Homo sapiens: one gene and its partner. The protein of the gene in region 1 purifies or fractionates together with the protein of each later gene. This does not show direct contact. Each region holds a gene or a part of one and is shown on either strand. Other genes may lie near its edges.

Region 1 (3,825 bases):
ACTGCGGGTACGACCTGGACGTGTCCCCAGGGAGCAGGTGGAGGGCAGTTCCCACAGGGACGCACTGCGGGTACGACCTGGACGTGTCCCCAGGGAGCAGGTGGAGGGCAGTTCCCACAGGGACGCACTGCGGGTACGACCTGGACTTGTCCCCATGGAGCAGGTGGAGGGCAGGTCCCACAGGGACGCACTGCGGGTACGACCTGGACTTGTCCCCAGGGAGCAGGTGGAGGGCAGTTCCCACAGGGACGCACTGCGGGTACGACCTGGACTTGTCCCCAGGGAGCAGGTGGAGGGCAGTTCCCACAGGGACGCACTGCGGGTACGACCTGGACTTGTCCCCAGGGAGCAGGTGGAGGGCAGTTCCCACAGGGACGCACTGCGGGTACGACCTGGACGTGTCCCCAGGGAGCAGGTGGAGGGCAGTTCCCACAGGGATGCACTGCGGGTACGACCTGGACTTGTCCCCAGGTGCCAGGGCCAAGTAAGAAGAAAATGTGCCTTCCTTCCTATTATACCATTTTCTGTTTTGGTCTTGTTCTCTTGATAATATAGGTAGGGAAACAGAATCAGCAATTATTAGAAGGCCACCTCTACTTTGTCCTTAAAGGAGTTGGCAATGGTTTGACCAGAATCAAAGAAGTATATATTTTGAAGATTAAGAGTTTAAAACAGTTTAAGAAAAAAAAAATTTATAGGTACCATTTAGCTTTCTAGTTGAAAACCAACACATCTGCCTTTGGGGTCAGAAGCAGCTATATCTAGGAGAGGGATACTCCTCTTTATAAAAGATGAAGGAGTTCTAAGGAGTTTATCAGGTCAAAAGACATTCCTTACATTTTCTGGATGGCATCCTAGTAATATTACAACAGTAGTATCTAACTCTTGCTAAGTACTTAACAAGGTGCTGGGTAGCAGTCTAAGGGTCCCATGTCCAATTCAGTAGCCATGGCAACTCATAGTTATCACATAACTAATTATATGTGGCTTTCAGCCTAAAACTTCCTAGAAAATAAAACTAAAAAAATTAGAAACAATATTATAAATGCAACGGAAACTATACAGGCAATATCCTATTAGTGTATCAAAATTTTAACAAACTAAACACAGTATTAAATTGCAATTTTTTTTACTTTTCAATAAAATACTTGCTAAACAGTCTTGTCTGAAATTATAAATTGCCCAAAGTTAACCATAAATGAGTCATTCTATTGAATTTAACAAACATTTAACTTTGCAAGAAATAAATTTTTATTTTTCTTCATTATCATACAGCATTTAAGAATAATAAATCTGTCTTGAGGTTTCAAATCTGAGATATCTATGGCAAGTTTATAAAAAGTACATTGATCAAGGTACAATTTTTAACATTAATATACACATTCCATAATCTCATCTATTTAACATTAACACAGGCCTTTGTTGTTGTTATTTTTTTCTCCCTACAATATTTCCTGACTCTGTAGGACAGTGGTCCTCAGTTGGGGGTTGACTCTGTCCCCTAGGGGCATCTGGCAACATCCGGCATAACTGTGGGTGTCACATGAGAGGGACGCTGCTCACCATCCTGCAATGCACAGCACAGACCCCACCACAGGGGTTTTATCCAGCCCAAATGTCAACAGTGTCAAGTTTAAGCAACTCTTACCGAGTGGGACTCAATTCCCATTTTATGAACACCTCTGTGCTCACTGTAATTCTGAAAACACAGACTTTGCTAACTGGTAAATACTATTTACAAGAAGATTCAACCTAATCAATATCACTTATCAAAAGCAGTGGCTGACTGTAAGTATCAACATGTTTCCAGAATGAATAAACCACACAATCAACTCAGAATGATACAAATTAGGGTCCATATCATTTAATTTCCCTTGAACCTGCTCTGCTAGTTTAATCTGCTAATATGAAAGTTAATTAAGACTGTTTTGAAGGAGCGAGACAATAGTTTCCTTTGCACATTTTTCTGAACTATGAGAAAAATTTAATGATACATAAAGCACCTGGCAAATAGCAAGTCCTCTGCAAGTGCTCCGGAAATGTTTATCACAGCCTACTAAAAACAGAGTTTCACTCATTTGTTCAAATTTCCCATAAGTATGTATCTGCAAAGATTAAATTAAGTTTTATTTGCTCGCTCTCATTTTACAATAATCTCTCACAAATGTCGCTTAGAAACAGAACACATATCCAGGGTGTGTGATACAAAATTATAAGTTAGTTTTTTCCACACAAGTTTTAAAGTATCAGTGTATATAATACATTAATGATAGTACCAAATGATAGAACTAAATTTAATGATAAATTAATGATAGAACTAAATTTAAAAGGAAAAAGTCATTCTAAGTTTGTTAAGCAGATAAATTTTTCTGTAATCATTTACCTACATATTCACATTCTGTATATTTTCTCATGGTCAACAAACTGATTCAAATGATTTAAGTTATCCCACCATTTAAAGAGAAAAGTCGCTGCAATAATTTTAAACCATGGCGTTATCTTAATTTCACCACTGGCTGCTTTTTTCAGAAGTTCTTTTAGTTCTTCCTTTGACACATAACAATAGCTTTTAATCTCATTGGGATCTGGATTCAAAGTTACATTCTTCCTCACCAACAAAATGTAATCAATTTCATGTTCACCCCAGATACCATCAGACTGAGCTTTGTAGTGAATTCGTGTTAAATAATTAATTTCTTCTGGAGGAACCTAAGACATTAAAAAAAAAAAAGTAATTAAAACATCGGCCACCGTAACAAAAAAAATCTAAAATTAGCTCACTGTATTACAGCGATATCTCGAACAGCAGTATAGTTTTAGGATTAGAACTTGGTTAAAGCATTAATCTCCTATCAATGGTATATGGAAATCTTAATATTATATATGGAAAAATGATTACATCATTAGTTTCAAGTGTTTGCGTTTTTTTCCCGATCAGATAAGTTTTTTTTTTTTTAATGTTAAAAAAAGGGGCAGTCACTCAAACTAGAAATGTGACATTCTTCTTTTTCTTCTTTTTTTTTTTTTTGTGAGACGGAGTCTTGCTGTCACCCAAGCTGGAGTGCAATGGTGTGATCTCAGCTCACTGCAACCTCCGCCTCCCAGGTTCAAGCGATTCTCCTGCCTCAGCCTCCTGAGTAGCTGGGATTACAGACGTGCCGCCCCACCATGCCCAGCTAGTTTTTGTATTTTTAGTAGAGACGGAGTTTCACCATGTTGGTCAGGCTGGTCTCGAACTCCTGACCTCGTGATCCACCTGCCTCAGCCTCCCAAAGTGCTGGGATTACAGGCGTGAGCCACCACGACCGGCCCGACATTTTTCTTTTTCATATTTTAAAATTGCTTTTTGGAAAATATAGATAAGAAATACTTTATTTATCCAGGTCTTATTTAAGGGGGACAATTCCAAGAAAAAAAATGATTTCAATTAAACCAATGAGATTTATGGTTCATATTCCTAAGAGTTTCCATCAGAAAATCTTCACCTTTTTTGTAGGTGGGGAGTTTTAGGTGAGAACTGGAAAACCTGTCAGTTAAATTCTACAAGAGCTGTAACACTTGAAAATACTCATCTTAGATTTGATCAATTATAGAAATATTCAACCTTATATAGTGCTTAACAGATCAATCCATCCCCGTATTGAGCTAAGTTTTGACAAGTGATATTAAGAAATTAAAATTTAAATAATCTTTATTCAAGATGGTTTGTGGGGCTAACTCATAACTCCGGAGGTTACCAAGCAGAGAACTACATTTGAATTTAAAAATTTTATTAAAAACCTTTTTATAGTATGTTTAGGTTTCAGCTTGTATGGTTGTGTAGGA
Region 2 (3,825 bases), on another chromosome or scaffold:
TTTTAGTAGAGACGGGATTTCACCATGTTGGCCAGGCTGGTCTCGAACCCCTGACCTCAGGTGATCTACCCACCTTGGCCTCCCAAAATGCTGGGATTACAGGCATGAGCCACCGTGCCTGGCCCCTATTCTTAACACTGTCTCCAAGAGGTTGATCTTATAACTCACCTCAGTAACCCATTATGGAGTCTTGCTGTTTCCAGTCTTGAGTTTTATACTTGATTGTTAGTACATGTTCATTCTTGTCCACTGTGGCTGTGAGAAGTAAAAAGTGGTCATGAAAAGTTTCATGTGATCTCCTGTAATCACACAGCATTATAGGTATGATTATCACACATTTGACTTCCCTGGGGTAAAGGCCAGTTTGATTCCCATCACTACAAGGGTCTCCAGGGAACAGCCATTGGCCTACTCATCCCAAACATTATTGATAGAACATTTCAATATCATAAAATAATCCACGTCACATTGTCCAAGAGTAGCGTACTGATTAGTCACAATTAAAATCGTGAAATGAAATCACACTGGACTAACAGCAAGGTTGTTTTTTGAAGAGATTAGCAACCTTTTGAAACACCTGTAACTAGAGATGCCAAATGAAATAAACAAGGCAGTCTGAAATCTTTCAGGATGCTTTAGTAACATATCTAGTTCTGACTGTCTTTGGGCTTAGCCAGACTTTTAGTAAACTGCAGAAATCCAGGTTGGGAAACAGGCAGCTCAGAGTTATTCTAAATAGCTACAGTTTGCCTGTACAGCTGACTTGGGAGGAGGGGAGAAGAAAGGGATTGCTAGAAAAGGGATTGATGTGAGTTTTGTATTTAATTTGGCTATGACTTGAGGAAATATACATCTCAGTCCAGGTGCAAATCATGTAACCTGGTATGATTACATGTGTTTAGGAATAATCAGAATAAAGCCTAGAAAAGAACAGGTTGGGAAGTTAGTTTTGGGTGGTAGAAGAATGGTGAGGCTGATTTTGTTAGTAGATTGCACATGGACAGATGAAGGTAAAGTACAGTGCCAGCTCCAGCTGGGCCTGGTGGAATCCAGTATGAGTGCTGTTTCAGATGGGACACCCCAACTGGGAGGGAGGTGGATCTAGAGAGGATGTCTGGCCCTGGCATCCCTTGAGTCTCTTGCATAGCTCAATTGTGTTGATGTTTAAGGAATAAGTAGGGAGATTTGTTTGTTTTTTAAATCTAGAACATAATTTCTTTAAGATCTTTCATTTCCACAAACCCAAGTTGGATTTACTGTATATGAGCTAAGGAAATTGGAGGTTGTCATCTTAAGGAGGCCCAGATACAGTTTTAGAAAGACCCTAGGGAGGAGGGATATCACAGGTCCTCCTCACAGACACCCATAGCCAGCTTGTCTGGTGTGCAGCAGCCACAGTTTGGCATCAACATCCTGAAATGAGGGTATTTAAGTGCCTGCATGTGCTACTGTGTCCTTTCATTATGCCCAGTCACCAGAGTTGGAATTACCCAAGGAATCGTGTGTGTTGTGGAGGCTGAGACATAAACACCATGGCTCTCCCCATTTCTTCAACTTCCTTGTAGTTCGGAGGAGGGAAAGCAGAGCCCTGGGCTCATCCATCCTCACTGCAGCCCCACCAGGAGATCCCATCAAGGCGGTCTTAGATTTCTAGGCTGAGGCAAGAAGGGGTTGGGCGATGAGCCCAGAGCCACACAGCCCAGCCCTGTTGTGGCCAGAGAGGGAAAGGGACTGACTTTGTCCTGCAAGTATGGAGACTGCTTTCTTCTTTCTGTTGTTTTCAGTGCAAGCTATCAGCTACCAAATGGCTGCCGTTTTGTTTTGTTTTGTTTTGTCCTTAGAGAAGCGCCCAGGGATCAGCTATCGGGAACAAGAAGGTATCACTGTTTTTTGGGGTATTTTTTAGATTGTCCAGTTTTGGTCATAGGTGGTTTGATTTCCTTTCACTGAATACAAAGCATGGATCTTGTCATCAAACCCAACCAAAGTCAATCTCAGTGTCATTCGCTATCTCTCTTCCCTCCTTACTGATCCCAGGAGAGAAGGTTAGGGTTGCACTAGTGATGGAACACCAGGATGATATAAAGCTTCCAACTTGGCTCAAGAAGAGTTCCAAACAAACAAGTATATCTGCCATTGCAGTGGCTCATGATATGTAAGTCTGGACTCTGTAGCTTCCAGTCCTCACTACCCTGGTCTTCCCCACCGTTCCTCTCTTTCCACAGGCCAAGAGATGCACAGTGATCGGTGGCTCTGGATTCCTGGGGCAGCACATGGTGGAGCAGTTGCTGGCAAGAGGATATGCTGTCAATGTATTTGATATCCAGCAAGGGTTTGATAATCCCCAGGTGCGGTTCTTTCTGGGTGACCTCTGCAGCCGACAGGTAATGGACCATGCAGCCTTGCTGATTTCCCACGAGCCCACGAAGGGAAACCACGATACTTCCCTTGCTCAGAAGCCAGCCAATTTGTTTGAAAAACAATTGTTTCATTGTGAAAATTTTCAAAGTTATAGGAAAGAACACCACATTCTTACTGCTTAGAATGAATAACCATCATCTCTGTCACAGATACTCAGCTGTGTCCTGGTAGCACAAAAGCAGCCATGGTCAGCACTTAAATGAACAAATGGCTGTGGCTGTATGCCAGTGAAACTTGACTTCAAAAGCCGTCCATGGGCTGTATTGTTCCAACTGCAAAACAAGTGTGTGCTGGGCCACAGGGTCTTGATTTTTTAATTGAGATATAATTCATGTACCACAAATTTCACATTTTTAAAGTGTGCAATTCAGTGATTTTCAGTACATCCACAAAGCTGTGCAACTGTCTCCCATGATCTAACTCCAGAATATTTGTATTACCCCAAAATGAAATCTTGTAGCCATCCCCTCTCTTCCCCTCCCAGCCCCTGGCCGCCACTCATCTACTTCCCATCTATGGATTGGCCTCTTCTGGACATTTCATATAAATGGAATCATGTAATATTTGTACCTCTGTGCCTGACTTTTTTCACTTAGCATGATGTTTTCAAGCTTCATCCATGTTGTACAGGTATGAATATCTTGAATTTTATTAGATGGTGCCAAATGGCTCAGCAAAGCTGCTATGTCAATTTTACCTCCATATCCACAATGTGGCACAAGCCCCATTGCTTCACATCTTTGCCAACACTGGGCATAACTAGACTTTTTGGTGTTGCCATTCTGAGAAGTATGAAGTGGTGCTTCACTGATGTTCAGAGTCACATGTCCTCCCTGACCAAGTAACCAGCCACTCTGCCACTGGGTGATCGGCTTTCAGGCTTCCTCCTGTGTGAAATGTTTGTCTGTGTCCTTTGCCCCTTTGTCTTTGGGGTTACCTTTGCTTCCTTGTTGATCTAGTTGGGATGCCAATCCTGTGCCCGTTGTACTTATTATGGATGGCTTCCCTCAGCCTGTCACTGGGCCCTTATTCTTGGCTTTGGTGTCATTCGCTATATGGTTTGTTGATGAAATATTAAGGCCATTGCTTCCGCTGCAAAGTTACGGTTGTTTTCTCTCCCGTGCTGCCCACACCTCCAGGCCTGGAGATGGGGTAGACATCTTTCATGCTCATCATTGCTGCCTCCGAACCGTTCTCCCTCATGCTGCTCTAAGCCTCTCCAGCTTTGAAGAGGATACCCTCAGACTGTACAAACCCCGACACCGTTCCCTCCTTGTGGTGGCCACCCACAGCCGCCTGCTCCCCTTCCCAGTGACTCCACATCATTTCTCAGTGATTTCAGCTCCTTTCTGGCATTATTATTGGTGAATTCAGCGTTCATGTAGATGACCCTACCAATGCCCT

Evidence for each region.
Region 2: the proteins of IDI1 (region 1) and NSDHL purify together in Homo sapiens (affinity purification with mass spectrometry; one large-scale study listed by BioGRID and IntAct). This does not show direct contact.

The regions. Positions count from the first base shown.
Region 1 is NC_000010.11:1,038,796-1,042,620, forward strand, and holds the end of IDI1 (isopentenyl-diphosphate Delta-isomerase 1), read right to left. Parts: intron 2,710-3,825; coding exon 2,392-2,709; 3' UTR 624-2,391; downstream 1-623. UniProt on the Homo sapiens protein: Catalyzes the 1,3-allylic rearrangement of the homoallylic substrate isopentenyl (IPP) to its highly electrophilic allylic isomer, dimethylallyl diphosphate (DMAPP).
Region 2 is NC_000023.11:152,848,040-152,851,864, forward strand, and holds part of NSDHL (sterol-4-alpha-carboxylate 3-dehydrogenase, decarboxylating), read left to right. Parts: intron 1-2,225; coding exon 2,226-2,384; intron 2,385-3,825. UniProt on the Homo sapiens protein: Catalyzes the NAD(P)(+)-dependent oxidative decarboxylation of the C4 methyl groups of 4-alpha-carboxysterols in post-squalene cholesterol biosynthesis. Also plays a role in the regulation of the endocytic trafficking of EGFR.